Linked DNA regions of Homo sapiens: region 2 is linked to region 1. Evidence: fine-mapped expression QTL. A gene starts in region 1. The other region holds a variant in brackets. All regions are shown on one strand. Distances are from middle to middle. Region 1 holds the start of GOLGA7B (golgin A7 family member B). Region 2 holds the start of LOC107984260 (a long non-coding RNA gene).

Region 1 (16,132 bases):
CGGTTTTGTGGAATAGAAAAGGGGGAAAGGTGGGGAAAAGATTGAGAAATCGGATGGTTGCTGTGTCTGTGTAGAAAGAAGTAGACATGGGAGACTTTTCATTTTGTTCTGTACTAAGAAAAATTCTTCTGCCTTGGGATCCTGTTGATCTATGACCTTACCCCCAACCCTGTGCTCTCTGAAACATGTGCTGTGTCCACTCAGGGTTAAATGGATTAAGGGCGGTGCAAGATGTGCTTTGTTTAACAGATGCTTGAAGGCAGCATGCTCGTTAAGAGTCATCACCACTCCCTAATCTCAAGTACCCAGGGACACAAACACTCTGCCTAGGAAAACCAGAGACCTTTGTTCAGTTGTTTATCTGCTGACCTTCCCTCTACTATTGTCCTATGACCCTGCCAAATCCCCCTCTGCGAGAAACACCCAAGAATGATCAATTAAAAAAAAAAATAAATAAATAAAATAAAATTAAGCCAAATTGCAATCTAAAACTAACTTTTTTTAAAAAAATGTTTTAATGGGAACAGAAATGTTAAAACTCACAGTAGAACAGAATTTTAAAAATAGTAATTTTAACAATAAATTTGTTTTCATAACCATAAAAAAAAAAGAAAGCCTCTAATATTTGGATGAATTCTATCTGGGAAGGGAGAATTATTGCCACCATTTTACAGATCAGAAATCAGAGGCTCAGAGAGATTGAGACTTGCTAATGATTACATAGTAAATAGGAGAGCCAGAGGTTGAAACCTATGTCATCTGACTCCAGGGATGCCGTTTCCTACCACATACTTCCTAGTAGTCTCCGCAATGTGCCATGAGATGACATTGTTTAAGGCTTTCCAGACCACAATTTCCCCCTCAAGCATTCATGCAATTGTTTTCCATCCAGACCCAAGTGCTGAGAATTTCCTCGTCTCCCCTGCTTTTTCTTCATCTCCCTGAGGTTTGCTAGCTCTTTCCCTGGCTTCTCTGCCGTCTGCAAGAGTTCGTTTTTCTCTCATCTCTTTCCAGCTATTATGATTTCCAAATCTTTCAGTTGGTTTCTTTTTCCGGCTGTGGTCCTTTATGGGGAGGCTTTCCAATGCAGCCGCAGATTGGAGGATGATAACACTGAATGTTAGTGGATCTTCTTTGATGTTATTTTGTGGGTGAACTCATTAATTTATGATAAAAAACATCAAAGAGCTAGGCTCTTGCATAGGACTAGGTTGTCCCAAGGCAGCTGGATAATAATGATTAGTCAGATTAAATCTCAAAGAGCTCTCTGCCTCAAATATAGGAGTTAAAGTCCAGATGACTGCATTTGGGAACATCCCATCCTCTAGCATCTCATCACAGCCTTGAGTCAGCCCAACATGGAATGCTGCCCACTCTGAATGTGGGTCTCTCTCTGTGGCTTCCACTTTGAGGCCTCTAAGACTTGAGGTCTGTTGAGATTGTTACAACCCTGGAGGCAATGTAGGGGAAATAGGGTGAGGCTGTGAAAGCCTCTTTCCCACCAGAGGAGCTAGATATTAAAAGGGATCATTTGTCCTTGCATGAGTGATCTCAAAGCTCTCTATAGACTCTAGTCCTGTGACGTCAATGGGGAGAACTCTCTCTGGGCTAAGTGCCAGCTCCATGCTTGGCACGGAGCAAGCTTTCTATAGGTACTGGCTGAATGATGGACCAAGCTTTCTAGAGGTAATGGTTGAATGATGTGTGAAAAGCCGTTGGCTAGTTGAAGGGGAGCAGGAGTGGAGCTCAGGTTTTTCTTTATGTGACAAAACCTCCTAACCAGCTCCCATCTGTGGCCATTTACTGTGTTTTTTTTTATTGTTATACTTTAAGTTTTAGGGTACATGTGCACAATGTGCAGGTTAGTGACATATGTATACATGTGACATGCTGGTGCGCTGTACCCACTAACTCGTCATCTAGCATTAGGTATATCTCCCAATGCTATCCCTCCCCCCTCCCCCCACCCCACAACAATCCCCAGAGTGTGATGTTCCCCTTCCTGTGTTCATGTGTTCTCATTGTTCAATTCCCACCTATGAGTGAGAATATGCGGTGTTTGGTTTTTTGTTCTTGTGATAGTTTACTGAGAATGATAATTTCCAATTTCATCCATGTCCCTACAAAGGACATGAACTCATCATTTTTTATGGCTGCATAGTATTCCATGGTGTATATGTGCCACATTTTCTTAATCCAGTCCACTGTGTTTCTTTCGCCTCTGTGGGAAATTGTCTGTGCTCCTCTCCTGAGCCATCCCCTCTCTGTTTGCCCTGTGTCCCATTCTCTGCTGGCCTGTTAAGGGCTTGCTCCTGCAATTAACCCTCTCTTTTCTGAATCATCAGTGTTTCCCTCTCTACTAGATGATTCCTGTCAGCAGACAAACATGCCCTAATGTCTTCCCTCTTGAAAGGAAACTCCCTTGCTTCCATGTCTCTCTCAGACCCCCATGCTAGTCTTTGCTTCCCTTTGCAGGAGAAAGAATTGTCTACACTCTCAGTACCTCTCCTCTCTCTCCTCCATGCTAACTCTCAAACCCACTTTAATCAGGATCTTATCCCTGCACCACTAAAATGGCTCTTGTCAAGGTCACTGGCGAACCTTCTTGCTGCCAAGTCCAGTAGTCATTCCTCAGTCCTCATCTTATTCCACCTGTGAGCAGCATTCAACATGGCAGGCAAGGCTCTCTTTCCAGCCTTCTTTGCTTGGCTCCAGGACACCGCCCTCTCTTGAATCTCCTCCTACTTCACTGGCCCCTCTTCTCAGTCTTTTGTCTTCCAGCCTGTCAGTGACCAAGTGTCCTGAATCAGTTCTTGGACAGCTTTTCTAGCTATGCCTACTCGCTCGATGATGTCTCTAGTCCCATGGTTTTAAATGCTATCCACATACTGAAGGGTCCTGAAGTTATATCTCCAACTCCTCATCCTCCCTTATAATTTGCTTATAACATGCACATCAAACTTCAAACCTAAGTGAACAAAACACAACCAAAATGCTGTGTTCTCTATCCCTTCAGGCCTGCTCAGTCCCTAGTCTTCCCCTCTCAGTAGATGGCCACTCCTTTCTTCTGATGGCTCAGATCTCAAGACTTAGACTCATCTTTGACGATCTCTTATTTATTTATTTATTTTGAGACAGAGTCTTTCTCTGTCCAGGCTGGAGTGTAGTGGCACAATCTCGGCTCACTGCAACCTCCACGTCCTGGGTTCAAGTGATTCTCCTCCCTCAGTCTCCTGAGTAGCTGGGTCTACAGGTGTGTGCCACCATGCCTGGCTAATTTTTGTATTTTTAGTAGAGTCAGGGTTTTGCCATGTTGGTCAGGCTGGTCTTGAACACCTGATCTCATCTCAAGTGATCCACCTGCCTTGGCCTCCCGAAGTGCTGGGATTACAGACATGAGCCACCATGCCCGGCCTGCCTTCTTTATACCACACATCCAATCCATCAGAAGATCCTCTCAGCATTACTTTCAAATTATATCTAGAATCTAGCCACTTTTTCCCACCTCTACTGCTACTACCAAATTCTAAGCCACCACCACATCTTCTAAGCCTGGGCTGCTCTAACAGTCTCCTAATTGGTTTTGCAGCTTCTAGCCTTGCCTCCCCTCTGACATCCAGTGGAATCTTTCAAAAACTGCAATTAGATGATGTCACACCCCTACGCTAAACCTTCTTAGGCTTGCCATCTTACTTTATGAGTAGAATCTGAAGTCTTTATCAGGGCCTACAAAACCCTGGAAGACCTGATTCCTGCTACCTCTCTGAGCTCAACTCCCAACTCTCTTCCCCTTGTTCACCTCAGGTCTAGCTACACTGGTCTTCCAGCTATTCTTTGTTTTTATTATTATTATTTTTGGGGACGGAGTCTCACACTGTCACCCAGGATGGAGTGCAGTGGTGTAATCTCGGCTCACTGCAACCTCCGCCTACCAGGTTCAAGTGATTTTCCAGCTTCACCCTCCCAAGTAGCTGGGATTACAGGCAGCCACCACCATACCTGGCTAATTTTTGTATTTTTAGTAGAGATGGGCTTTTGCCATGTTGGCCAGTCTGTTCTTGAACTCCTGTCCTCAAGTGATCCACCTGCCTTGGACTCCCAAAGTGCTGGGATATAGGTGTGAGCCACTGCGCCCAGCCTCCTGCTATTCTTTGAACATACCAAGCCCAGTCCTGCGTCAGGGCCCTTGGATTCTGTCCTCTCTGCCTTGTCACTCTTCCTCCAGGTATCTATATGTCTAGTTCTCTCTCTTCCTTCAGGGCTCTACCCAAATTTCACCTTATCAAAAAAAGTATTCCCTGACTATTCTTTCGAAAATAAGCCCTCTCTATCACTATCTCCTTACCATATCTTCTTCCTAGCAGTGATCACACTTTTCTTCCTAGCAGTGATCAAAACTTGACATATTTTACACATATTTGCTTATGTCATGGATTGTTACCCCCATTACTATATAAGTTCAATAAGGACAGAGGCTTTGCATTTTTAGTCACGACTGTATCCCAATTTCCTAGAAGAGTGCCTGATACACAGTAGGTGTTCAACAAATAGATGTTGATGAATGGATTTGTTGAATGGCCTCATCCAGATATCTAGTCATCAGGTGAAGAGAATGGTTTCCAGAAGGTTGTCTAATTGATGTGATAAAAATCAAGTGGGAGGAACTGTGAAATTTACATGGAGATCATCAGATTATGTGTTCTTTTATTACCAGTGACCACTGCAGGATTCATAGATATTCTGTTTGGTCCTTTATGCCAAATCCTATGCCAAACTATAAGGTAGAATGAGACACCCGCCTTTAACTTCTTTAGCATGTCACTTACACTCTGGGACTCAGCGTTTTCATCTGCAAAATAGGCAGCTGGAGATGTGGTCATTGCTCTGCTAGTCTATGGTCTACCAGATGCTGGAGGGAGGCAATACAGTTAGGAGGATCAACCACACAGGCTCTGGAGCTTGACTGCCCATGTCTGAATCCTGTCTCCATTCCCCACAAACCCTATGACCTTGGGCAACTTACTCAGTTCCCTCATTTATAAAGTGGGAATAATAAAAAGATCACAAGAACACAACTCAAAGAGTAATTGTGAGGATTACGTAAGATCATACATGTAAAGTGTGTAGCATATGGGCTGGCACATGGTAAGTGCTCACTAAATGTTAGCTACTAAAAATGAAAAGTTCTGGGAAAATTTTTGAGGGGTCATCGCTATTAATGTGTTTTAGGGGTGACAAACTGTTCTAGAATATTAGATAATATGGGCATTTTAAAAGCATGATAATTGGCTGGGTGCGGTGGCTCATGCCTGTAATCCTGGCATTTTGGGAGACTGAGGTGGGCGGATCACCTGAGCTCAGGAGTTTGAGACCAGCCTGGCCAACATGGTGAAACCCTGTCTCTACTTAAAATACAAAAATTAGCTGGGTATGGTGGTGCGTGCCTGTAATCCCAGCTACTTGGGAGGCTGAAAATCACTTGAACCCAGGAGGCAGAGGTTGTAGTGAGCTGAGATGGTGCCACTGCATTCCAGCCTGGGTGATAGAGCAAGACCCTATCTCAATAAAATAAAATAAAATAAAGCATGAGAATGGTGTTGTGCCTAGTTGGGATAACGCTTTTCTTCTTGGGAGATGCATGGTGAATTGAAGTACTTACAGATAAAATCTCATTGAAGTACTTACAGATAAAACCTCACGATGTCTGTCACCTTATTATTATTATTATTATTATTATTTTTGAGACGGAGTCTCGCTCTGTCACCCAGGCTGGAGTGCAGTGGCGCAATCTCGGCTCACTGCAAGCTCTGCCTCCTGGGTTCATGCCATTCTCCTGCCTCAGCCTCCCCAGTAGCTGGGGAGTAGCTCCCCAGGTGCCCACCACCACGCCCGGCTAATTTTTCTGTATTTTTTAGTGGAGACGGGGTTTCACCGTATTAGCCAGGATGGTCTCAATCTCCTGACCTCATGATCCGCCCACCTCGGCCTCCCAAAGTACTGGGATTACAGGCGTGAGCCACCGCGCCCGGCCACGATATCTGTCACCTTCTGATAATCTAGGCAAATATAGCTCTGTTTTCATATCTATCAATAAAGCAAATGTGGCAAAAAGCAATTGTTGGAGCTAGGTAGATGGCATAGTTTATTGTACTATTCTTTCAACATTTTGGTATGTTTAAAAATGTCAAAATAAAAGGTTGGAGAAAAAACAAAAGGTCCTAGAAACAGTCTAGTGAAATCCAACACTCACATTTTACAGAAAGAGAACCATAAGCTCAGAAAACAAGACAGTTGCTCGAGGTTATACAGCTGGAAAAGCCTGGGCCAGGTCTCTTGGCCGCCAGGTTCTCCCTGTGTGTGGGCTTCAGACTCTCAGGCAGCAGTGAGCTGCAGAGGAGCACACCCCACCACCCCTCAAAGAGACCAAGGGGTATTATGGGTATGTAAAAAGGCACTTGTGTTGGTGTTTCCTTTTTTTTATGTCTATTTTATTTATTTATTTATTTATTTATTTTTTGAGACAGAGTTTCGCTCTTGTCGCCCAGGCTGGAGTGCAATGGTGTGATCTCAGTTCACTGTAACCTTTGCCTCCCGGGTTCAAGCAATTCTCCTGCTTCAGCCTCCTGAGTACCTGGGACTACAGGCGGGTGCCACCATGCCTGGCTAATTTTTTTTTGTATTTTTGGTGGAGATGGGGTTTCAGCATGTTGGCCAGGCTGGTCTTGAACTTCTGCCCTCAGGTGATCCACCCGTCTCGGCCTCCCAAAGTGCTGGGATTACAGGTATGAGCCACTGCTTCCGGCCTTATTTTTATTTTTTTAAGAGACAGGCTCTTGCTCTATTGCCCAGGCTGGAGTACAGTGGCACAATCATGGCTAGCTGCAGCCTTGAACTCTTGGATTCAAGTGATTCTCCTGCCTTAGCCTTCTGAGTAGCTGGGACCACAGGCACACATCACAACGCCCGGCTAATGTTTTCATTTTTTGTGCAGACAGGGTCTTGCCCAGGCTGGTCTTGAACTCCTGGGCTCAAGCAATCCTCCCACCTCAGCCTCCCAAAGTGTTGGGATTACAGGTGTGAGCCACTGCACCTGGTCTCCTTTTTATTAAACAAATAGATCATTTAGTTGGAATTTATGATGTCAAAAGTGCGAAGGTGGCACCAGAGCCAGACCTGCCATCCTTGGAGAGTGAGCATACCGGTTTGGCACCATCTGCTTGTGGTTTTTGAGTGGTGGTGGTAGTGGTGGTGCGTGTATGTAAACTCGGGTTGCAGAGGAGAGAGGGAAGAGTAAAGGGTGGGGACCAGGTCCAGGAAGAGCAGCAAGGAGAGACTGGCTTCAATTCTGGAGCTGCCTGAAAGAAGGGACCCCAGGCTATGGCTGAGAACGAAATGTGGGCACGTATTTAAAGAAAGGAAATGATTCTCTGCGGTCGGCAGGATCTTTGTCTAGCTAGTGGGGTTCCAGGAAGTGCAAAGGAGAGGGGAAAAGAGGGGCCGTCCGTGCAAGCCTGACTGTGTGTATATGGGGGGGGGGCACACAGAGAGGAAAAGGGAGAGAAAGAAAAGAAATTATTCTAAAGAGGAAGCTGGGGGCGGGGCGAGGGAGGGGTAGAGCCGGGGCACTGGGGGTGGCTGGAAAGGTAGAGAGGCCTCACCTGCGGGCCTGCGAGCGGCTCGGGAGCGGTCAGCCTTGCAGGCTGAAGCGTCTTGCCCCGGAAAAATTCCTGCCCCACTGTCCTTCAGGCTGGATGTCCCGGGGGCCACGGAAGCGAGCGCAGAGCTCCGGGGCTCTCACGAGGGGGAGGGCAGGAAGGGGAGGCGGGGCCTCGCGCGGGGCGGTAGCCGAGCCTGTGGCCCGGGCGGGGCTCCTCTCCGGCGGCGCCGGAGTCTGGGGGCCGCGGCTTCCCCCTCCCGGCCAGCGGCGGCTCCTGGCCCCTCCTCCCCCGGCCGCCCCCATCCCCGCCGCCGCCGCCGCCAAAGCTAAACCCGGCCGTTGCCTGCAGGAGCCGCGGCAGCGGGCGATCGGGCCGTGAGGAGCCTCGGGCGCGGCCTCGCCTCCCGGGCCCGGCGCCTGCCTCAGCACAGCGGACAGCGCCGCGCCCCTTGCCTGGACCCAGCCGCCCGCCCGCCCCCGGCCCACCTGAGCCCGGGCCCGCGGCGCCCGCATCAGCACTGCGGACAGCGCCCCGGGCCCCAGCTCGCCGCCACCGCCGCCGCCCACCTGCTCCCGGGGTCAGCACCGCGGAGACCCCCCTCGCCCGGCCCCGCGACAGCCTCCGAGCGCCCCCGGATCATGGCCACCGAGGTAGGGGCGAGCGCCCCACCCGCAGGCAGTGCCCGATTGCCGCGGGACCAAATGCCCTAGGGGTGGGCTGGGCAGGAGTGGGAGGCGGGAGTTGGGGGTGGGATGGGGTGATTCCCCAGGTCAGGTCTGGAGGGAGGAGGTAGGGGCTTAGTGAGGGCTCATCTCCCCCTTGCGTGTCAATCTTCCCCTCGCCCCACCTGAGCCCCCAAGCTGTCCGCGACACTTGTTGGCATTAGCGCCAGGGTTGCTTCAGGGCCCCAGGCTGGGGTTTCCCCTTCCCTGGACTTCACAAGTCCTGAAACCGCTTTCCTAGAGGGTTGGAGACGCGTGTGTGTGCGTGTGTGAGGGGAGGGAAGGCGGCTGTCCGCTGTTGCTATGCAGTCAGCTTCTGAACCCAAAAGCTTGGCTAAGGGATGACAGACTTACCTCTACATCCGCATTTCCTTTGCGGGAGGGAGGGGACAAAGACATCCTCAGGCTGAGAACCCAAATGGTTGGTCTCCACTTTTGCATATCACCCTTCTTGCTTTTTTACCCCATTCGAGTTTTTTTTTTTTTTTTGTCCCAGGGTGTCCAGATTTCCCCTCCATCTGATGGGAGTTTCTGCCTTCTTCAAGGTGCACTGATAGGTGTGTCACCTTCAAGCACTTGAAGGCTGAACCACGGGGCCTGTTAGCTAAGGGCAGAATCTTGGTATAATGCTTGAGGTCGAGGATTCCCCCCTCTACCCCTAGGGATTGCCCTTTCCCCCCTCATTTCAGGAGGGAGATTGGGCTCTTTATGTTCCCACTTTATACATGATAAAGGTGATGTGTGGAAAACGAAAGGACTAATTTGCTACTCCACACAGCATGTCAGCAGCAGAGCGGAAAGTTTTTGCCTTTGAATTTTTGGAGCGAAACTCAGGACATCAGGGTCTCCCCAGTTCTGATGTTGACTTCCTTTGTGGTGTCTCCCCATTTCCAATCCAGCTGGCATACACTGGGGGAGAGCAGAGGCCTGTGAATGATTCAATGCAGTGCTTCTGGGCATCCTGGTGAGCAGTGTGACATTAATACCAAGTGTGGCTGTTGTTATTCCACTCAAGTTTCCACCACAGAACAAGGTGCTGTTGCTTGGCATTGCTTGGCATTCTGACAAGGCACAAGGTTAGCTAGGCGGAGAGTTGCCCCTCAGGACTTGGTGTGAGGGCAAGCCCTGGGCAGACCCTGGGAGCTTGGTTTCTAGAGTAGAGGAATGCAGAGTACTCACAAAGCACCAAAGACATGGAGGACAGCAGGAAGAACAAAGGGAGAAACCAAGGAGTTGGTTACCTTCCAGATAGGGCTGCCAGACTGCAGCAGAGGCTGCTGTGTTGGACAGAAAAGGGGAACTTCAGCTACATGGGCATGGCTGGGCCAGCAGCGTGGGCAGAGAAGGCAGCTGCCTCTGCGATGTGATCTGACAGATTCCAACAGGCCCATCTGTCCCAGGATGTCTGCCATGGCCCACAGATTCCAACCAGCAGGCTTCTATCTCTATGTCAAGACAGCGTTTCCAGGAGGCTGCTATGAGACATGTGTGACTCTCCCCTGGGAGGGGCTCTGCTCATAACGCCTCTGAAAATATTGCGCTTTCCTGTGTACAAAGCACTATCGCATAAGTGATCTCTTTCAAGCCTCAGAGCAGCCCTATGAAGTGGGTAAGGATGGTGTTATTATGCCCAATTAACAGATGAGACAACTAAGGTTCAGAAACTTGCCTGGTCCCTGTGAAGGAGCCAAAGAAGGCATCATTATCCCATTTTACAGATGATGGAACTGAAGTGCTGAGACTTATTCAGGAAAATATGGCTAAAAGGTGGCAGGGATGGGATAAGAACTTGAGTCTTCTGCCTCTTTGGCCAGTGCTTTTTTTTCCTGCATCCAATTAGCCTATTGTGTCACCTGATAGAGAGGAGGGCCCTCCAGGTCTTGATGTGAAGCTTTGGTGGAGAGAGGGATGCAAAGGAAGTCATGAAGGGCTGGAGTGTGGGGACTCAGGCCCCCTGCTTGGCCTGGCTGGGTTGGTTTGAGGGCAGAGGGACAGAGGAAAGTCCCGGAGTGATGGGGAGCTGAGGACAAACATTCCTCACTTCACAATTTGGCCTTGGGTGGACTCTGATGGCAGAACTGAGGCAGGAAGCCTTAGCTCTGCCAGGGCACAGGACCTGCACGTATTCTGGGTTGTGGGGTGAGTCATTCTCCCAAGGCTGTTTTTACTGTTAGAATTGAGTTGAGATTACCAGGATAAACTTGTTGGGAGAGGGAAAACATCGCTTTAAGTTCCCATGATTATTCTGTTAGGATTCTCAATAGGAACTCCTCAGCTCTAGGAGAAGCTGTATTGAGAGAAGGAGAGAGGGAGAGGAAGGGGGTGGGGAGAGGGACAGAGAGGGAGGGGTGAGGGAGAGGGAAGAAATTCATGGGTGGAAACTGGGTCTTTTCTGTTCCCTAATTTCTGTTTAGGAGTTAGCATTAGGGGAGAGGTGTCTGTAAGGAACTCAGAGGAGGGATGGAGCCTCCTGAGTGATACACTGACCTCATTTGGAGAGCTGCAATGAGCCCATTTTCTGAGCAGCAAACCTCTGTGAATGTGTGTCACTGGGAGCAGGGTCTGCCCTGGGAAATAGTCCAGATGGCCAAGGACAACTGGGAAGTGCCTGGCTGGGAGGGGCTTCTCCAAGTGGTGGGGTTTGGTCTCTAAGAGATTTTTAAATGCATCCAAGTAGCGTTATTCAAGCAGGGTGTTTGGAGGTTTGATCTTTGAGGCATGGAATTAATGATGAGTAGACAACTGGGTCAGGCTTGAGCACTGGTACAGGCTGAGAAGAAGGGAGGTCTTGTGGCTGGTGTTTTATCCTTAGGCCTGACCTGGCTGTCTGTGACTCATGATCCTCACTCCTCCTTCACACCCCAGCCAGGAAGCAGAGTGCTGGCATCAGCGGAACCTCCTAATTCTCGATGCCTCACATGCATCCTATGGAATGAGATGGTTTTTAATGAGGATGAAGATGGCGCCAGGGGGGCACTCCTGTTGGACTTGGGCAGACTGGACCAGGAGCTCATTTGCACTCTAGAGCTTGTTCCTCTGCACCCCAGCTAGTTGACTGTCAGGTGAACAGGAGCCAAATGTGTGACCTGTGGTACCCACTCTCCAGGCAGACTCCCCCTCCTTCTCATACTGCAGTTTGAAAATTGGTACCCATGGGTCTCACCACTGATTTTCTTCCTTATGAAATGCTTCTCGGCCCTGTCTTCACTCTGCTGCCAGTGAGCCAGGGGTGGCAATGGGAGAGAGGGGCAGGGTTGAGGAAGGTGAGAAGTGGAGAGAGGCTCAGGTCTCTGGGTCAGTTAAGAACCCCCTGGGAGACACCCAGGGGAAACACAGAAACTGCAGCTTCAGAGAGAGTTGTGCACATATTTTGATATCCTCTGGTAGGATTTCAGAGCATCACGGATCTCTGCTGAAAACCCCACCAGCTTTCTGAAAACTTAGTAGCTGGCCAGTGGCCTGGAGCCTGGCTTAGCTCTTGCCCAAGGGGCCCCAGCCATGGGATTCTTTATTTAGAGGTCTTAAACTAGCAGCTCTAGAAATGAGTCTGGTCCATGGGTGTGCCTTACTTAGTCTGTTGAGTGCTTATACATTTTAAAAATGTATTGGAAATATTCAAAAATCAGAATATTTGATGTTAAAAAGATCTAGATTTCTGGCTTCTTTTGAGACACCAGAAGTGCTGGCAACCTGGGTATACATTCCCACGTGGCAATAGTCATCTGTCTCCTTGAGATGGGGCACCAGTTTTCTAATTAGCCCCAGGCCCCACCTGGCCCACTTATTGCTCAGCCCCTGTAAACATTTGCATTCATAATCCCTGATAAAGCCTCTAGAATGTCAGAGATGAAAGGGGCTTGAGCAATGATGTAGTTCCAGTTTCTTAGTTTCCAGTTGAAGAAATGGAGGTGCAGAGAAGGGAAGACTTTCCCAGGGCCATGTGGCCCAGGGTCAGGTCTCCTGCCCCCAGGTCAGTGGGCCATCTTTCCACTAGGGCTTCCTGGCACTTCACACTCAAGCCACCATGAATGGAGAAAACCAGGAGACCCTGCCTTGCCTTAAATCCGGCTCTTCACCAACTTCAGATGAGTCTGTAATATATGTACTCTATGTAGGTCTGGGAGACTAAGGCTCTGCCATATAAAATGTGTCTGATATCATCCTTTAGCAACTCCTCAGAGTTGCTCCTCCACAAACACTCTCCAGGGAGAGAAGCAGATCTCTGGTCACCCAGAGCCTGGATAGTAGTCTAAGGCTCAGGATATTGTTGGTGCTGAAAAGGGTGTTGACTTATCCTACTCTGGCTACTTGAGAACCTGTGGATCAAAGCCAAGAGGAAATGGGAATTTATTATGTAAGGTAGCACCCCCAAATCTTAATGTATTAATAGCTTAATACAATAGAAGTTTGTATCCTGCTCAGTGAAGTTCCAGGTAAGTGTTCCTGATCAACAGGTATTCCAGGCGGTGATTCAAGGCAGTGATTCAGTGATTCAGGGACCAAGGCTCTTCCCAACTTGTGGTGTCACTATCTTCAACACAGGGCTCCACCAGCCTCCATGAAAGGGGAAAGAGCAGGGAGAAATGGTACATCTTTATGAATCAAGCCTACACATGGCATTCGTCACTTCCTCTCACATTCTACTCAGTCATAGGGACACACCTAACTGCAAGGGAGGCTGGGAATTAATATAGCTGTATGCCTAGGAGGAAGAAGAAATGGCTTGGGTCAGTAGCTAGCCAGTCGCTAGAGACACACGCCTTCAGGACAGCACACAAATATGTGTGTACACATGTGTGCATTCAGGCACAGATTTAACACAATCCCTATCAAATTAGCAACATCGTTTTTCACAGTATTGGAAAAAACAATGCTAAAAAAAGAAAAAACAATGCTAAAGTTCACATGGAACCAAAAGAGAACCTGAATAGCCAAAGCAATCCTATGCAAAGAACAAATCCAGAGGCATCACATTGCCTGACGTCAAATTATACTACAAGGCTATAGTAACCAAAACAGCAGGTTTTGTATGGGTCAGAGGACAGGAAGCTGAGTCCATATCAGAATGGTTTCTTCCCTTTCTTTCCATTCTCACCACTGCTTTTCTCACCACCTCTTTAGTTTTTTCCATGGACTATTAGAAAGAGAATCATCCCTCCAACTGGCCCCTCACCCCAGTCTTGTCCACTTCCCACAAAACTGCTAGAATGAGCCTTCTAGGGGTAGGGGAGTCCATCCTCAAGATTGACTGACTTTCATAAGTTGGTTTTAGAGGGGCAGAGGAAGGCCATAGCCTTGTTCTTTACTCTTGAAAATACAACATTATAAAACCTTAACCAGAGCAGACATGTTAACAATTAACTTATTTATATTACCAAAGCATTCCTTATTTCTCCGAGTTATCATAGGTTCCTAGTAGATATCAAGGGGATTTCCTCAATGAAAACCTTGATTAGAGGAATCAACTCATATAAGCCTACAGGAGGGCTTATACATTATTTAATCCAGTCACAATACTTTGAGATCACATTTCGTACATACAGCAAGGTCCACCTGGATTTAGGAAAGTCACATATAGTGTTTTTGGATTCCCACCTTTTCAGGACCTTGATCTACCAATTATCTGCTCCTTCTACTTTATTGATAACCTTTCCTAGTTATTTATTATTTCCCAAGATTTTTGTTTGTTTTTAAATTTTATTTTATTTTAGATTCAGGGAGTACATGTGCATGTTTGTTACATGGGTATATTGCATATTGGTGGAGATTGGGCTTCTAGTGTACCCATCACCCAAGTAGTGAACATTGTACCCGATGGGTAATTTTTTAACCCTCACCCCCTCCCCTCTTTTGGAATCCCCAGTGTCTATTATTTTCATCTTCATATCCATGTGTACCTCTTGTTTAGCTTAGATTTATAAGTGAGAAAGTGTGTTTTGTGGTATTTGGTTTTCTGTTTCTAAGTTAGTTCACTAAGGATAATGGCCTCCAGCTCCACTCATGTTGCTGCAAAAGATATGACTTTATTATTTTGTATGGCTGTGTAGTATTCCATGGTGTATATATACCACATTTTCTTTATCCAGTCAAGTGTTGATGGTTGTTACTCTGAAGTTGGTTCTATGACTTTGCTATTGTGAATAGTGCTATGATGAACATATGAGTACAGGTGTCTTTTTAACATAATGATTTATTTTCCTTTGGGAGGATACCCTGTAGTGGGATTGCTGGGTTGAATGGTAGTTCTCTTTTTAGTTATTTAAGAAATCTTCATACTGTTTTCCATAGAGGTTGAACTAATTTACATTTCCACCCACAGAGTATAAGTGTTCCCTGTTCTCTGCATCTATGCCAGCATCTGTTGTTTTTTTAATAATAGCTATTCTGATTGGTGTAGCATGATGTCTCACTGTGGTTTTAATTTGCATTTCTCTGATGCTTATTGATGTTGATCATTTTTCATGCGTTTATTGGCAGCATGTATTTCTTCTTTTCAGAAATGTCTGTTCATGTCCTTTGCCCAGTTTTTAATGGGGTTGTTTTTTTTCTTGTTGAATTGTTTGAGTTCCTCATAGATTCTGGATATTAGTCTTCTGTCAAAGGCATAATTTGCAAATATTTTCTCCCTTTCTGTAGGTTGTCTGTATACTTTGTTGATTATTTCTTTTGCTGTGCAGAACTTTTTAGTTTAATTAAGTCCCATTTGTCTATTTTTGTTTTTGTTCCATTTGCTTTTGGGGACTTCATCATAAATTATTTGCCTAGGCCAATATCCAGAAGAGTTTTTCCTAGGTTTTCGTCTAGAATTTTTACAGTTTCATGTCTTAAATTTCAGTCTTTAATCCATGTTGAATTAATTTTTGTATATGGTGAGAACTAGGGGTCCAGTTTATTCTTTTGCACATGGTCAGCCAGTTTTCCCAGCACCATTCATTGAATAGGGAGTCCTTTCCCCATCCCATTTACAATAGCCAGACACACACACACACACACACACACACACACACACACACACACATTTAACCAAGGAAATGAAAGATCTCTATGAGGAGAACTACAAAACACTGATGAAAGAAATCGTAGATAACACAGACAAATGGAAAGACATCCCATGCTAAAGGATTGGAAGAATCAACATCATTAAAATGACCATGCGGCCCAAAGCAATCTACAGATTTAACACAATCCCTATCAAATTAGCAATATCATTTTTCACAGAATTAGAAAAAACAATGCTAAAGTTTATATGGAACCAAAAGAGAACCTGAATAGCCAAAGCAATCCTATGCAAAGAACAATCCTATGCAAAGAACAATCCTATGCAAAGAACAAATTACATTGCCTGACGTTAAATTATACTACGAGGCTATAATAACCAAAACAGCAGGTTTTGTATGGGTTACTGGTACAAAAATAGACACATAGACCAATGGAACAGAACACAGAACCCAGAAATAAAGCAACATACCTATAACCAACTGATCTTTAACACAGTCTTTCCCCGGTGTTTAAGCAAGTTTAAGTATCTGTCATCCTAAATCCTCCCCTTCAGCAGGAATCTTTCCTGCTTCTTGTGATCTGACCCTTGCCTCCTCTACAATCTCATCTCCCACTGTTTCTTATCTAATCTGCAAACCACCTCCATTCTTGCTGAAATCTGCCTCTAGTAGACCATGTGCTCTATCTTTGTCACTTTGCGCAAGCTTCTCTTTTTGCCTGGGTTGCCTTTTCCTCCCTCTCCACACTCTCTGC
Region 2 (16,132 bases), 31 kb before region 1:
TTTGTTGTTGTTGTTGAGATGGAGTCTCGCTCTGTGGCCCAGGCTGGAGTGCAGTGGCACGATCTGGGCTCGCTACAACCTCCGTCTCCCAGGTTTGAGCGATTCTCCTGCCTCAGCCTCCTGAGTAGCTGGGACCACAAGTGCACGCCACCACACCTGGCTAATTTTTATATGTTTAGTAGAGAGGGGGTTTCACCAGGTTGGCCAGACTGGTCTTGAACTCCTGACCTCAAGTGATCTGCCCACCTTGGCATCCCAAAGTGCTGGGATGTGAGCCACCACACCTAGCCTAGAACTTGGGCTTTGAAACCTGCCTCTACCGCTTACTGGCAGTGAAGCCTTGGGAAACGGACTTAACCTCTCTTGGCCCCAGTTTCCTCATCTGTCAAGTGGGGATAATACTAGGGGCTAAATCATGGGGCTTTGTGAGGATTTGAAAAGCCATTGAGCATGGTGCTTGGTACATGGCAAACTCTCAAATGAAAGCCATTGTGATGATTACTCTGGAGACATGAACCACTGTGAGGACCCTGGCTGCAGCCTCAATCCTGCCACCTGTCCCGAACCAGCTGAAGCACTTTCCTCCCGCTGCAGGTGCAGGCTCAGGTGGGCATGAAGAAACTCTTTAGCAAAGATCTTCCTCCAGGATGCTTCTACTTCTTCTTGCTTGTGCTATGCTCTTGTTCTATGTGGTTCTGGACGTCAGGGCTCAGCTCTGACCTGGTACCCAGACTTCAGGCTTCCTATTGAACCTAAATTGGTCCCTAGAATTGTGTCTTTTTTCTAGCCATGAATTTGGGCTCCCTGGTCTTGAAGATCTTGAGCTACCCTTTTTGACCCGCCCCAGTTTGATGCTCTGAGGGTGGAACCTCCTTGCTGATAAGTTGGCTCACAGGTGGCTGTGGATTGGTGCTTCTCCAGCTTCTGCCTGAGAGCACCCCTGGAGACAGAGGCGTGTGAACACCATTCAAGTCAGCTACGAGTGAGAAGGGTGTCTAAAGCCTTGTGTCTGATCTTTAATTCATGTGGATTTTGCAGCACTTCCTGACTTGAACAAGTCATTATAATATAAAAAGTTTAAGATAATTTACCATCAGGAAAGAATACAAAGAGTGGCTGCCCTATTCATTAATGCATGGGATGCAGCTGCAAAGCATCTAGCTATTTTTTTTGTATTGCACTGAATTGAAAAGAGATCACATTGCCTCACAGATTAGCTTTTCTCCTCTGTCCAAGGTTACAGTATGTTAAAAACCCAGGTCCATGTAACTCTGTGGCTATAAAGGGCAACAGTTCTTTGTATGGCAGCTTCAGGTAATCGCCGATGAGAGACATCTGGAATACCACCAGAGCAGTGGGCCCGTGTAGCATGTCCAGCCTTCTGTTGGCAGGCTGGATAGCCTGGGAAATGATGAGAATACTCTCCCTGACCTGGTGAAGCTGCAGAACTCTGTCTCTTGCCACCCTCCAGGTCTTCAACCAGCCGGCCCCTGCTTCTTCAACCTGCTCTCATTCATGTGACTTGAATCCTGCAGCCTGTATCTGTCTGCCTCTGCCCTTTGAGTCGGATAGGATGCAGGTAACAGAAGACCCCATGGACAGTGGCTTAAACCACGATGACACTGAATTATCTGAGAAGTCTGATCCAGAGTTGATGAGCAGATAAAAAATGTTGAAAGGATCCACGCTCTTTCCATCTCTCTGCTTAGTCATCCTCACTGTGTTTGCTTTTCTTCAGTTTGTTACTTTTTTTTTTTTTTGAGATCGAGTTTCGCTCTTGTTACCCAGGCTGGAGTGCAATGGGGCGATCTCTGCTCACTGCAACCTCCACCTCCCAGGTTCAAGCGATTCTTCTGCCTCAGCCTCCTGAGTAGCTGAGACCGCAGATGTACACCACCACACCCAGCTAATTTTTGTATTTTTAGTAGAGACGGGGTTTTGCAATGTTGGTCAGGCTGGTCTTGAACTTCTGAGCTCAGGTGATCCGCCCACCTCGGCCTCCCAAAGTGCTGGGATTACAGGCATGAGCCACAGTGCCTGGACAAGCTTGTTACCTTTTGATGGCAAGATGGCTGCCACAGCTTCAGCCATCGTGCCCTCACTCAACCACATTCAAGGCAAGAAGGAGAAGAAAGGGACAGTTTCTTCCATTAAATGTCTATCTCTTTTATCAGGAAGCAAGAAGCCCTCCCTCAGATTTGTCTTTATTTTTCACTGGCTGGAACTGTATCTTGACGGCAAGGGAAAATGGAAAAGTAAGAATCAGGGAAAAGCAAATGAGATTACTTTGTTTGTTTAGCCCAATCATGATTCATCTTCTGAGGCTGGAACAAATATCAGAGTCTGTAGCAATAAAGAGAAGGCAGTGACTTTAGGGTAGGCACTAACGGTGCCCACCAGTCTTTCTAATTTCCCATGTCACCCTCAACTTCTCAGGCCCACCCCTGGCCTGCCTGAAGAGCCTCAGGAGAATGCCCCCTTCTTTGTCAGACCCTCTTTGTAGCTATTGAGGCCCTCTTCGTACTTTGTTTTGAAATCTGTCATAGGGAAGACATGTCCTCTTTCGTCAAATCTCACAGAATTGCGTTCTGTGCCAGTCTGTAGGTGACAAATGACTGAGATAGAGACAGCTCTCACCCCGGCACATCTCAAAGACTACTGTCTCTGCGAACAGAGATTGTTCTGAAGAAAAGGCTGATCATTAGCCCCCCACCACAAAATTATTCCCCAAATCAAGTTTGGGTAAAATGACTATCCCTAGTAATTGGCCATTTTTATAGACAGTTCCGCGCATTCGCATTGCTTTCGAATGCAGGGTGGCCTAGGAGGGGCACGCTTTCTTCTGCAGGTAGAAGGAAGGGCACAGACTTGGGAGCCCAGGTTTGAGTCCTAGCACTGACAGTGTGACCTGGGGCAAGTCCTTGAACTTCCCTGGGCCTCTATTTATGTCCCTCTGAATAGGAGACATGATTTGCTGCTTCAGGGTTGCTGTGAGGATGCTCTGTGGCTTTATGGGAGAAGGCTGGAGGACTCTAAATGTGGTGTTACCTCCTGCCTTCAAGGCTTCTACTGTGAGCAGATTTTCAGTTATGTATTTGCAGTTGAACTTGGCCACCCGCTGGCTGGCTCACTTTGTTAGAAATCAGGACCGTGGCTTATTTGGGAGCAAGGTTCTTATACCTCATTGGCTTTTGTGCCTCTCTTTAAACTTCCCCAAGGAGCAGGTAAGGAGGTCTCCAGCTTCTTGGGTTTGTAGGTATATGTGGGGAGCTTTTCTCTTCCTTTTGTCCATTGCTATTTTCTTTTCTTTTATTATTGAGGTAAAATTTACATACAGTAAAGTCTACAAATTCTTTTTTTTTTTTTCAGATGGAGTCTCTCTCTGTCACCTAGGCTGAAGTGCAGTGGTGCAATCTTAGCTCACTGCAACCTCCGCCTCCCAGGTTCAAGAAATTCTCCTGCCTCAGCCTCCCGAGTAGCAGGGATTACAGGCATGCGCCACCATGCCTGGCTAATTTCTGTATTTTTAGTAGAGATGGGGTTTCACCGTGTTGGCCAGGCTGGTCTCAAACTCCTGACCTCAAATGATCCACCCACCTCAGCCTCCCAAAGTGCTGGGATTACAGACATGAGCCACTGTGTCCGGCCAAGTCCACCAATCTTTACATGTGCTGTACAGTTGATGTATTTTTTCTATATTTGTACATCAGTGCAAGCACCGCTCTAATCAGGATATGGATGGTTTCCATCACTCCAGAGGGTTCCCCATGCCCCCACCCGCTTCCCCCATCAACCCAGCTTGTGCTCACATGCAGCAGCTGCCATTGAACTTCACATGGGGCGGGTATTATATACCATGTGCTTTACATTGTTCCCTTAGGACTTTCACGTCTTTTTCTGATCAGTTTTAAGCAGCCTCTCAGCCCTTCTTCTGATGGGCTGGGCTCCTCCCTCCTGGCACATCACTGGTGACTGTCTACTGTCATCTCCTGAGGTGGCAGAAGCCTCAGATGTACCTCCCTTGGCAGGGTGTGTCCTGGGATATTCCTGCGGGCACCGAGACCAGGCCTTTGCTCCCAGGGGCGGCTCTGTGGCTTTGCTGGCTCTTGCATTGCAGGGCTTGGAGGAGCTGGGAATGGGCTGGGGATGGGGTGCCCTGGGCAAAGGTTTCTGAGAAGTGGCCTGAAGTCAGGCCAAGCTGGGGGGCTTTAGAGAAGGAGTGGATAAAGCTACAGACCCAAGAGAGGTCTGCACAATGGGGGGTGCTCACAGAACACCCACAATGTTAGAAGTGGCAGTTAAGTGTGGGGTGGTGAATTAGGCATTAGCTTGGCCCTCTACTGAGAATGACGGAGGACAGACCCCACCCCTGCTGACAAGGCTGACCTTAGGTGTGGTATGGTGGGAAGTCGCCCTTCCCTACAAAAATATCCCTTTCGCCTGCCTGCCAACACCATGTGTTCACTCACTTGTTCATGTCAGGGGTATTTCCTGGGACCCCGGGGATGCAGGCAGGCAATGTGCTAACGCCAACTGTGTGAGGATGCCCACAGGCAGGGCCTCTCATCCCGCGGGCCCACTTCCTAGACAGGCTGCTAACGGGTGGCCCACAGGCCAGATTGGGACCTTGGATGTGCTGGCTTTGGCTCCCATAGTTTAAAAACCTGGAAATTGCCTATAAAAACTAGATTCCTGACTTCTCCTGACAAATCAGGAGATCTGGCAACCCCAGCCTGCTACACAGCAGCAGGTAGGAGTGGGCACGGCACGCTTTCTCCAGTTTGCTACAGTACCTACCATCCCTCTGGCCTCATACCTGCTGGCCTAGGTATGTACATTTCTGCTACTACAGAAATGTAGATATCTCTGCTAATTTGAATGGATGGGAAGAGTTGGTGAAGGCCTCACAGGAGAGGCAGTGAGGCTTGGTCACCGGTTGGAGGGTGCCTGTCCAAACCTACTCAGGCTCTTCCTCTTGAGGGTGATGCTCTTCTCGGCAGATGCTCTCTGGAGAGGATGATAGTGTGGGGGAGGGGGAATGGGCAGGAGAGCAAGATGCTGAGATATTATCCCACCAAGGCCCAGGGTAGTGGTTCTCAAAGTATGGACTACCTGGATTAGGATCACCTGGGGGTGTTGGTTCAAAATGCAGCCCCACTGCAGCAGAGCCTGGAGGGAAGGTCCCCAGGTGATGCCCTGCTCACTCAAGTATGAGAAAAGGAGGCCGGGGCTTAGCAGGCCATGGGTCTGACACAAACTGTGTTTTCTAGGGCAAGACTGGGGACCCAACTCCTCCTTCTAGTCCCCTGATGGAGTCTTGTTTTGGACACCCTGCTTCCAGGCACAGCTGGGGCCCCCACCAAGCTGAGGGCATGAGAATCATCTTCTCCAGCCTTCTGGCTCCTGCACCTGGAGGAAAGGTCATGCTTGGCCTTGCCAAGTCTTTTCATTTTCCAGAATCTTTGAACTGCCACCCAGGCAGTGGGCCAGCTGTGAGAAATGGGATGGTGGCTGGCTGGCTGGTAAGGGACACCTTGTCTCCTCTTCCCTTTGATGGGTGTGCTTGCCTCTCAGCCAGGTGGCCTGACAGTTGCTGGGCTCTGGCCAGGGGGCTGGAATCATGGCCCTTTGTAGGTAAGGAGGGGCAGGGGTAGGGAGGCACCCTCGTGGTGGCCAGGGCGTACGTAAGGAGGCGCTTATGCTCAGGTTCTTGAAGTGGCCCAGCAAGAGAGCATTTCCTTAATAATGAGGTTCCTGGGGAGCAAAATATGGGAGGCCCTCATTCTCAGGGTGGTGAAGGGCCCACTCCCCACCCACTCCTGCCAGAACTTGAGAATGCGGGCTCCCTAAATGTCCCACTCTCCCAAACTTGTCTGGTCCTGCATCCTGGTTACTGCACTCAGGGAGCCCGAGGGATGTGCTGGGATTGCAGGTGAAGGAGAGGGTGGGGCAGGCAGAGCATTCAGGACCTCTCACACCAGACCATGGCTTCTCAACCCCAGCTGCACACAGGAAGCCCCCGGGAAGCTTTAACATTTCCTGATGCCAGGACCCCATCCCCAGAGATTTGGATTTAATGAATCTGGGGTGCAGCTGGTGTTGGGATTTTTAAAACTCCCCAGGGGATTCTAATGGGCAGCAAACTTTGAAAACCTCTGATCTGGATGGAGCAGGGAGGGTGTTGTTTATGGGTTTTCCTTCCATCTGTTTTAGTTGGAAGCAACAGACCGACAAGCAGGACACAGACTTCTAAGGGTAATGCTGTTTTTTTTTTTCTTTGAGATGGTGTCTCACTCATTCCGATTGTACAGTGGCATAGTCTTGGCTCACTGCAACCTCCGTCTCCCAGGTTCAAGTGTTTCTCCTGCCTCAGCCTCTCGAGTAGCTGGGATTACAGGTGCTCACCACCACGCCTGGCTAATTTTTGTATTTTTAGTAGAGACGGGTTTTCACCATGTTGGCCAGGCTGGTCTCGAACTCCTGAGCTCAGGTGATCTGCCCGCCTTGACCCCCCAAAATGCTGGGATAACAGGAGTGAGCCACCGTGCCCGGCCTGGGTAACACTTTTGCTGGTAACACCAATAGCTGAATGCTGTTGTCAACATTCAACAAGGTGAATGGACTATGAGGAGGACGGAAAGAAGCCTAAGATTCAAGCTCCCAATCTGTGCCACATGCATCATGTTTGCCACTTAACGGTCAGTCCTGGGAGTTTACAGATGAGGAGCTTGAGTCTTGGCCAGGCTAAGGACTTTGCCTGCGCCTCACAGCTGTGGAATTGTAGAGCCTTAAATGAAATTGATGTGTGACAAGGTGCTGGTAGGAATGAAAGTCCTTCCTGTTGCTTTCAGATTGATTTTCTAAATAAAGTATTTCTGGGGTCAGCTGGTGGAGGAGAGGGCTTGGGAAAGAACTGGGCCCCGACTCCTCTCTGCCTGCAAGATAGAGGGTGGGGAGGAGCTGAAGGCTATTTTAGGCCCCGTCCCCCATCAGATTCTGTCGGAATCTGGCCTCAGCCAGCTGCCTCAAGTGATTTTAAGGAAAAATACCTCTCCCTCTGCTTAAAGACAAATAGATCCCTGAACGTAAAGTGAGTTGACTAGTGTGATAAAAACGGGCCTCCTCCTTGCCTCCAAATTCTCTCACACACACACACACACACACACACACACACACACACACGTATGCACACATACACACACTCAGAGTTACCGCAATTCCACCACCTAGGTGATTAGATTGAGCCAGAAAATACTCATGGGAGGGTAAGTGGGGAGACAATTCCATCTGTTACAGCATATTATAGGTTACAGAGTACTTTTATAGGGGGCTGATCCTACATTCTCAGCAGACCTATGCATCCTGCTAGACAGCAAACACCGTGGGGAATATGCCACAGAGGCTTCTGTAGATGCAAAGAGAGAGCATTTAAGGTGAGGCTTGGAAGATGCTGAAAGTTGCTCTTTAATGGGTAACTTTATGCAAAAGAATTGTCCCACTGGCTTCCAAAGCAGTAACAATGCTGTGAGCAGCTTTTTGCTGTGGTGACAAAAGTTCACTTTCTCCTACTGAGAGTGGTTTCTGCATTCTCAGTTGGTTCATGCAGGAGCAGTGGGCCAGGGAAGAGAGCACCAGGGCTGGTTGGATTCCTGCCTGTCCACTTATGGGCTCCCTCACCTTGGGTGAGGGGATTAGCCTCTGAGTCCTGGTTTCCTCCTATGCATGTTGGGGGCTTCTGCTTCTGGCCAAGACAGGGTAGCAGGGACTGGATTTATACTCCTGCCTGAAACAATTTTTAAAAAACAGACAGAACATATGAAATAATGGTTTTCAAGACACTAGACATTAGGCTACAAGATTCAGGGGTCCCACAGAGCTCTATGGTTGTCTCTGCTTACTACCTGGAGAGTGTTTTCGGCCACAACCCAGAGAGGGGGAACTCGGGCCAGGTGGGGAGAAATGGAAGTAAATTCTGTAAATGTAAGGTTCTTATACTCGATGTGAAGTGGCACAACATCACTTGAAGGTAAATTGTGAAAAGGTCAAGATGTGTACTATAAACACTAAAGCAACTGCTAAAATAGCAGAGTTACAGCTGCTAAGCCAATAAAGAAGATAAAATGGAATAATCAAAAATAGTCCAAAAGAAGGCAGAAAAGGGGAAAAAAATAGATGGAACAAATAGAAAACAACCTGGGGCTATGCCAGGTTCCCCTGCCTCTCCTCCTTGGAGTCAGGAGGTCCCAGCCCTGCCTCCAAGCCACACTGAACCTTGGTTTTCTCATCTGAAGAATGGGATAGCAGTTCTGACCTCTCAGGGATATCCGAGGGTTCCTCGGGAGTGTGGTGCCTGGTGCAGGATGGCTGCTTTCCCTCTTCTGTCTGCCTGGCCCAGCTCCTGCCTCTGCGCTCCTCTCCCCTCTCTTACTTGGGGGTACTTTTCTCCCTTGGACTGCCCCTGCCTCTCCAAGGCCTTCTGGGAGCCAAGTGGCTTGGCCCTGCCAGTGGGCAGGTTGAAGATTTTTCCTTCAAGACCCTCGAAGGCCAGGTGGTCAGGGGTTGGGGGGCATGAAAGTTGAGTGAGACTAAGCTTTTTGCTTTTGTTTTTGTTTTTATTATTTTTAATGTTTCATTGTGGTTTTTTTTGTTTGTTTGTTTGTTTTTTTTTTTTTTTTTAGATAAAATTCACATAACATACAAGGAACCGTGTTAAAGTGTACAATTCAGTCTGGGTGTGGTGGTCCACACCTCTAATCCCAGCACTTTGGGAGGCCAAGGTGGGAGGATCACTTGAGTCTAGGAGTTTGAAACTAGCCTGGGCAACGTGGTGAAACCCTGTCTCTACAAAAAGTAGAAGAATTAGCTGGGTGTGGTGGTGTGGGAGCTGGGGGTGGGAGGCTGAGATGGGAGGATGGCTTGAGCCTGGGAGGCAGAGGTTGCAGTGAGCCGAGATCACCCCACTGCACTCTGGTCTGGGCAACAGAGTGAGACCCTGTCTCAATAAATAAATAAATAAATAAATAAAAATTATACAATTCAGTGGCATTTAGTATATTCCCAATGTTGTACAACCACCAGTTTCAAAACCACTAGTTTCAAAATTTTTCGTCACTCCAGAAAAACACCCTGTGCCCATTAAGTAATCACTCCTCATTCTCTCCCTCCCCCCAGCCTCTGGTAACCACTCATCTGCTTTCTCCCTTTATGGATTTACCTATTGTGTTCATTTCATTTCAAAGGAATCATAGACTCTGTGGCCTTTTATGTCTGGCTTCCTTCCCTTGGCGTAATGTTTTAAGTTTCATCCATGTTATAGCAAGTGTCAGCACTTTATTTCTTTTTAATAGCTGAGTAATATTCTATTGCATGTACATAACACGATTTGTTTATCCATTCAGCCGTTGATGGACATTGAGTTGTTTCTACCTTTCGGTTACTGTGGATAGTGCTGTGATGAACATTTGTGAACAAGGGGAGTCCCTGTTTTCAGTCATTTCGAGCATATCCAAATGCGTGGAGTTGGTGGGTCATACGGAAATTCTGTTTACCTTTTGCAGAAACTGCCAAACTGCTCTCCACAGTGGCTGTACCTCCTTTTAGTTTTCATATTATATTATTCTAAGTGCAAAGATAAGACAACGCCATAGAAAATTTGGAAATTATGCCTTGAGCAATTTTTTTAAAAAAGTTTTCATTTTAAAAAATCATAAAGTTTATATAAATCCATGCTTATTGTAACAATTCAAAGACATTTCTAGCAGAAAAAAGTCTATCTGCTCCTCCATCACTTTCCCCCTAGCTGATAAATGTTGACCCTTTAGTAAGTATCTTTCCAGACATTTTCCAGGCATTGATAGAGTTTTGGGATTTTTCTTTTTACATGAACTTGTCATACTATCCATATTATTTGCTTTGAAATCTTTCTAT[G/A]CATTTCTTGTGAATTTCAAGTTGGAAAGACTGTCCCAGAGCCAGGCGGGTGGTCCCTGGAGGAGAGACCCTCAGATCTGTGACCTGTCCTTGCTCTGTTAAAAAAAGTTTGGAAGTCTGGGCCACAGGTATGGACAAAGTTGTCCTTGAGTGGATGGATAAAGAATGTATTATAATTTTCTTTTTGTTATCTGCATATATAAATTCTTTGTAAAATGAGTATGAATTGCTTTTATAATAAGAAAAAAAAGTGGGGAAGAATTGAGGGCCTGCAGTCTTGGTGCCCAGCTTGTACCTTAATTTAGCACTAACTTCATTCCTTCTCATTGCATAATGAGTTGTTTATGTGTTTGCCTCCCTTGAGGGAGGACAGGCTTATTCATCTCCTTGCCCTCCCGACTCCTTCCCTGCTCAGGTCTGAGCCCCATGCCAGGCACACAGCAGGATTGCTGAACCAGCAAGTAGCCCCTGCAGGGTTGTGGTGGAGGCTGCAGAGGAGAGGGTGGGTCCCAAAGACCCCCATATGCCCTCAGCTCAGGCTCCCAAAGGAGAGTGCATAGCCGGGGGAGTCCAGGCCCCCAGGACCAGGCTCCCAGTGGTCACACTCTCTGCAGGGGCACTGGGCCCAGCCTCTGTGGGAAGCTGGGTGTGAGCGCAGGTGCAGTTATTCATGGCAGCCCTGGCCAGAGTACCCATGGCAGGCGGCATCCAGCTGAGGAGTTAATTAGAGCACTGCCAGGAGCAGGAAAGGGGGGCAGGAGGCTTGGAGGCTTGGGCTCCCTTTCCATAGAGATAGAAATAGCTGGGCTCCTGGCGGAGGCGGAGAGCAGTACACACAGGAATGGAGGTGCGAGCAGCCAGCGCCTGGGGCACAGGGTGGGGGTTGTCTTCTTGGGCTTGTCCCGTCATTCTTGTTTGGGAGGGGGAAGGGGAAGGGGCATGTGGTCTGTGGCCCGGAGGGGGCCTGTCCGAGGCCCTTCTTCTCCTTCCTGGGGCCTCCCCATCTGTCTCCCAAGCCTGGCCTGCCCGGGCTCACGGGGGGCATCACAACAGCCCCAGAGCCCTGGCCTCACCTTCCTGCCTCTAGCTTTCCATGAGAAGCAGGCTATGAAGGGGTGGGGTGGGGTTCCAGAGCTCAGGATCATTCTAGCATTTCTAGGGGGTAGTCCCTGGTGGTGCTGGGCAGCTCCGTGCCTGACTCATCTGAAAACACTTTATAAATAACCTGGCAGAGGGACGTGGGCTGTCCACCCCCGTACCCGCCACACTCTGTGAGCAGGTGGCAGCACCGAGGTCCTGAGGGCTTTTGAGATGTCCAGGGCAGGGTTCTGGTCAGAAGCCAGGCCCAGGGGGATGCCGGGAGGGAGTGTTGTCCACCTCTGGTGAATGGCGCTGCGGGGGTTCTGGGCACCATGGAGTCCTCCTCTCAGCTGTGATGTTGTCAGCGCCACAACCTTCGATGGGAGCATTGGGGATTTCTGGCTGGGCAAACTGAGCCACTATGGACTAAAGTTGCTGGGAAACCTGGGATGAGTCACTTCCCTTCTCTGGGAACCCTCATTGGTAAAATGAAAAGGTTGAACTAGGTGAGTACTAAGGTATATTTTTTATTCTCCTTGGTGGGTACAGGTTGGTGTTCCTAAATTAGATACCACAAATATTTACTGAACCCTCATGTCCCTGCACTGTGCTAGGCAGCTCTATGCAATTATTAAAAAAAAATTTTTTTTATTTAGAGATAGTCTTGCTCTGTTGCCAAGGCTGCAGTGCAGTGGTGCGATCTTGGCTCACTGCAGCCTCAACCTCCCAGGCTCAAGCAATCCTTTCATCCCAGCCCCCTGAGTAGCTGGGACTACAGGCGCACACCATTACAGCCGTCTAATTTTAAAAGTTTTTGTAGAGATGTGGTCTCCCTGTGTTGCCTAGGCTGGTCTCAAACTCCTGGCTTCAAGAAATTCTCCCTCCTCAGCCTCCCAAAGTGCTGGGATTATAAATAGGTGAGAGCCACTGCACCTGGCCTTTTTTCTTTTCTTTTTTTCTTGAGACAGAGTCTTGCTCTGTTGCCCAGGCTGGAGTGCAGTGGCACGATCTCAGCTCACTGCCACCTCTGCCTCCCGGGTTCAAGTGATTCTCCTGCCTCAGCCTCTCAAGTAGCTGGCATTACAGTCGCACGCCACCACGTCTGGCTAATTTTTGTATTTTTTTTTTGTTTTAGTAAAAATAGGGCTTTGCCACGTTGGCCATGCAGGTCTCGAATTCCTGACCTCAAGTGATGTACCCACCTCGGCCTCCCAAAGTGCTGGGATTACAGGCATGAGCCACCATGCCCGGCCTCAAATATTTTTTAATAAGGCTCATTTGCTGCTAGTTAGTGCATTGGGTAGGGGCCCATGCCGGTCAGGCCACATCAGGGTCTCAGGCCAGGGCAACAGCTGTATACGTGTCAGTCGTCTGAAGGATTAGCAAGGGAGTGTGGCCACGGCTCAGGCAAAGGCAGAAAACACCTGACACCGAGAGGGAAGGGCACGGTGGGCTCTGATGCTTGTCTGAATTTCCCTCAGCAGCCCCATTCACCAGATGGGCCCTGGGACTCGCTCAAGGTCCCATAGCTGGAAGTGATGGGGGCCCTGGGAGGACCCAGGTGTTCTGATTTCAAGCCCGGTTTCTTGGGAGGAATGCTCATTGTTTCTATATTCTCTATTTGGAAATATCTCAAGTAGACACGATGGCACCAGGAGCAAGAGGCCACTGGGCAGAGAAGGCAGGGTCCTGCGTGTTCCTGATCAGGCCTGCTCTGGTCTCAGGCTGGGGAGGACACTGTGTCCTGGTGCTCGGCGGTGTCTGGCACAGATGGGCGTGTGTGGGTGGGGCAGGAGGAGGAGCAGTTACCCGCAAATGGAGCCTGCGTGCTGGACACGGAGAGTCTCTCCCTTGTCAGGCCTAAGGGGACACCAGGAGCCCCCCGGGCAGGAACAGTATCTGGGCGGCCAGCGGTTGGACACAGGGCTGCAATAGGGTCTGATTTTGTTCCTGAGGAAGAAGAGACATTTGACTGGTCAGCCACAGAGGGCAGACGAGGATTCTGGACGCAGATTTCAGCGTGGCACAGCCTGTGTACTCACTGCTGGGGCACTGCCACCTGTGAGGTGATGAGCTCCCAGTCCCCCGATGAGTGGTCTTCTGTGAGGGTGTGGAGGAGGGGACTCCATGAGGGAAGGGCTGGATTAGGCTGGTGGTCCCCAACATGGCAGCACATCAGAATCCCTGGAGGAGTTTGCTTATGGTACAGATCCCCGAGTCGCCCCCCGAGCCCCCACTAGATAGGACTCCCCAGGGATGAGCTGCACAACCTCCACGTCAGGCCTTCAGAGGCTGGGGCTCCATTTATCCCAGCCTCCCTTACCCACCCCTGAGATACGCTGTTGAGGTTTCAAGCACAGTGCAGCTGCACATGTAGTAGCAGTCCATAGACAGAGAACAAACGGCAACCTCAGGAGACTGCGGATTCAGAGCTTAGTCAGTGGATTTGGTGGCTGCACACAGCTTGGACAATGGCTTCCCTGCAGGCCACTCAAGAGACTGATGTCAGGTGTCATGCCTTTGGGGATTAAGATGCTGAAAGGGTTTTGATATCTTTCAAGGGAAACAGAGCTACAGGGCCTTCAACAAGCTGCTTTGCTCCTGCGGTCAGTCCAGTTCAACAGTAGTCTCTGGCTGGGTGCGGTGGCTCACGCCTGTAATCCCAACACTTTGGGAGGCCGAGGCTGGAGGATTGCTTGAGGCCAGGAGTTCAAGACCAGCCTGGCCAACATGGCAAAACCCCATCTCTACTAAAAATACAAAAATTAGCAGGTGTGGTGGTGCACACTCGTAATCCCAGCTACATGGGTGGCTGAGGAACGAGAATTGCTTGAACCCAAGAGGCGGAGGTTGCAGTGAGCCGAGATTGTGCCACTGCATTCCAGCCTGCGTGACAGAGCCAGAGTCCATCTGGAGAAAAAAGAAACAAAAAACAAAAAACAAACGTGGCCCCTGATGAGGGGGAGCCTGGTGCAGTAGGAAGAGTGCGGCCAGGGGCAAGTCCAAAGCCTCCTCCTGTCTCGCTGTGTGACTTTGAGCTAGTGTCTTACCCCCTCTGGGCCTCTCATTTGTAAAGTGAGGGCGTTGCACCTTCAAATCCTCCCTGACCTGGCATGTTACAATACCTTGAGTGACCAGGATCTGGGGTGTTTGCCTAGTGACTGGCATCAAATGTTGTTCTGACCTGTTCCTTGCTGTGGCATCTCCCCTCCTTAGTTACTTGTTTCCCACTGTCTGCTGGAAGTGTGGCTGTCCTGGCTAATCAGGCAGGAAGGCCTGGTAGCAATGGAGGCAGGGCAGTTGGTGGGCGGGAAGGAGTGAGCACGTGGACCTTCCAGGCAGTGGGGCCGGCCAGGGGCAGGGTTCCAGGTCCCAGGGCAGGGGAAACTGCCAGGAAACTATAGGCCCTGCCTCAGAGAGAGGACTGGGGCCAGAAGTGGGGGATTCTGGCTTAGTACACTAGCCCTTGAGGCCCATGAGGCCTCCCAAGAGCACGGTGGACAAGTGTAATGTATAGGATACTCCTGGGGTTAGGGACGGGACAGGCAAGGAGACATTAATGCCACATCTTGAGGGCACATTCAGGGCCAGGCATTGCATTTGTACAATTTCCAGATTTCACAAAACTCATGGGAGTGGATATCACTTGCCTCATTTATAGACAAAGATAGGAAGGCCCATGTTAAATGATTTGCTCATGGCCACACAGCCAGTGAGAGGCAGAACGGGATGTGAACTCAGGTCTGGCTGATTCTAAAATGCACAGGGCTCCCTCTGCATCGTGCACCTCCTCCTCTGTTACAAGCATCGTTCTTCTGAAGCTCAATGGCACCCATCAGCTCAAGGCTCTGCGTGTATCTGTCCAAGGTCAGGGGTACGTGCACAGAAATGGACATGCATGAAGGAAGTGTGACTCAGAATTAAATTGCAACAGAGAAATTTAAAATCACCTAGGCCAACAGAGTGTCAGCAGGATTTGAGCCTGAGACCTGTCAGGTTGCAAAACTGATTGCTGGGGAAACTGAGGTTGATGAGCTCCAGCCCCCGGCCATGCGCTCACATGGTATGTGGGAGGCCAGCTGCGCAGTAGTTGCAATGCCTCATATTTCTGGGGAGGTGGCCATGAGCTGCTGTGCTGGAGGCAATCAGGGAGGGGTCCCCCAAAGGGGCAAAGTTTGAGTTGTCTCTCAAAAGATGGGTTGAAATTCACATGCCAGTTAGGTATGGGAGAAAAGAGTTCTAGGCAGCTGGAACAGCATATGAAAAAAATCAGAGGCCTGGAAGGATGCGTGGAGTTGGGGAAACTGGGAGTAGCTCCCTGGGGTGGGAGGCTGGGTGCAGGTGAGAAGGGAGGTGTGGGAGACGAGGCTGGGCAGAGGAGCCAGAGCGTGGGCTGGATTATGGAGGGCGTGTATCTGTGTGACCTTCTGACTTTGGCCAAGCCTCAGTTTCCTCAGCTATAAAATGGGAGAAATAAGGCCGTCTGTCTGTACAGGTTGTTGTGAGATGTAAACTAGACAGTAACAGTGAAGTGGGTGGCAGTGAGCCTGGTGCAGGGGCAGTAACTGGCTGTTGCTGCTATAGTTGGTGATGGTGATGGTGATGGTGATGGTGATGGTGATAATAATAACTGGGTTTCCCAGTTTTCTTTCATCTGTTCTCAACACAGTAGCAAGAGTAGTTCTGTTAAGACATATGGCAGATAATATCCTTCCTTTGCTTACAAGCCTCCAGGGACTCCCCTTTCATGCAAGGGAAAAGCCACAATCCTTGTGACAGTCTTCAGGCCCTGCCTGACTTGATTTGCCCCTTAGCATACTCCCTGTGTTCCCATGCTGCTCCCTTCCTGTCACTCTGCTCTAGCTGCTGGCCTCTTCACCATGCCTGGAACTTGCCAGAGTACTCCTGCCTCAGGGCCTTTGCACTTGCTGCTCCTGCACCTGGAATGCTCCTCCCCAGGTGTCCGTATGGCTTGCCCTATCTAGCCTCCTTCAGGTCTTCAATCACATGTCACTTTTTTTTTTTTCAGACAAGGTCCTGTTCTGTCACCCAGGCTGGAGTGCAATGGTGCAATAATGGCTCACTGTAGCCTCAACCTCCTGGGTTCAAGCAATCCTCCTGGGTT

Evidence for each region. PIP is the estimated chance that this variant, and not a neighbour inherited with it, causes the effect.
Region 2: its variant is fine-mapped to the expression of GOLGA7B in atrial appendage (GTEx, PIP 0.94). The same link has a PIP of 0.9 or more in left ventricle.

Annotation. Positions count from the first base shown.
Region 1 is chr10:97,842,008-97,858,139 of GRCh38, forward strand. It overlaps GOLGA7B (golgin A7 family member B), which reads left to right and starts at 7,836. Exons shown (of 5, transcript NM_001010917.3): 1 at 7,836-8,308. The coding sequence starts at 8,297. It overlaps GOLGA7B-DT (GOLGA7B divergent transcript), which reads right to left and starts at 7,791. Exons shown (of 3, transcript NR_108035.1): 1 at 7,659-7,791. RefSeq lists an enhancer at 1-509.
Region 2 is chr10:97,811,176-97,827,307 of GRCh38, forward strand. It overlaps LOC107984260 (a long non-coding RNA gene), which reads left to right and starts at 10,722. Exons shown (of 3, transcript XR_001747563.2): 1 at 10,722-11,513. The variant G/A (reference allele first, on the strand shown) is at 9,928.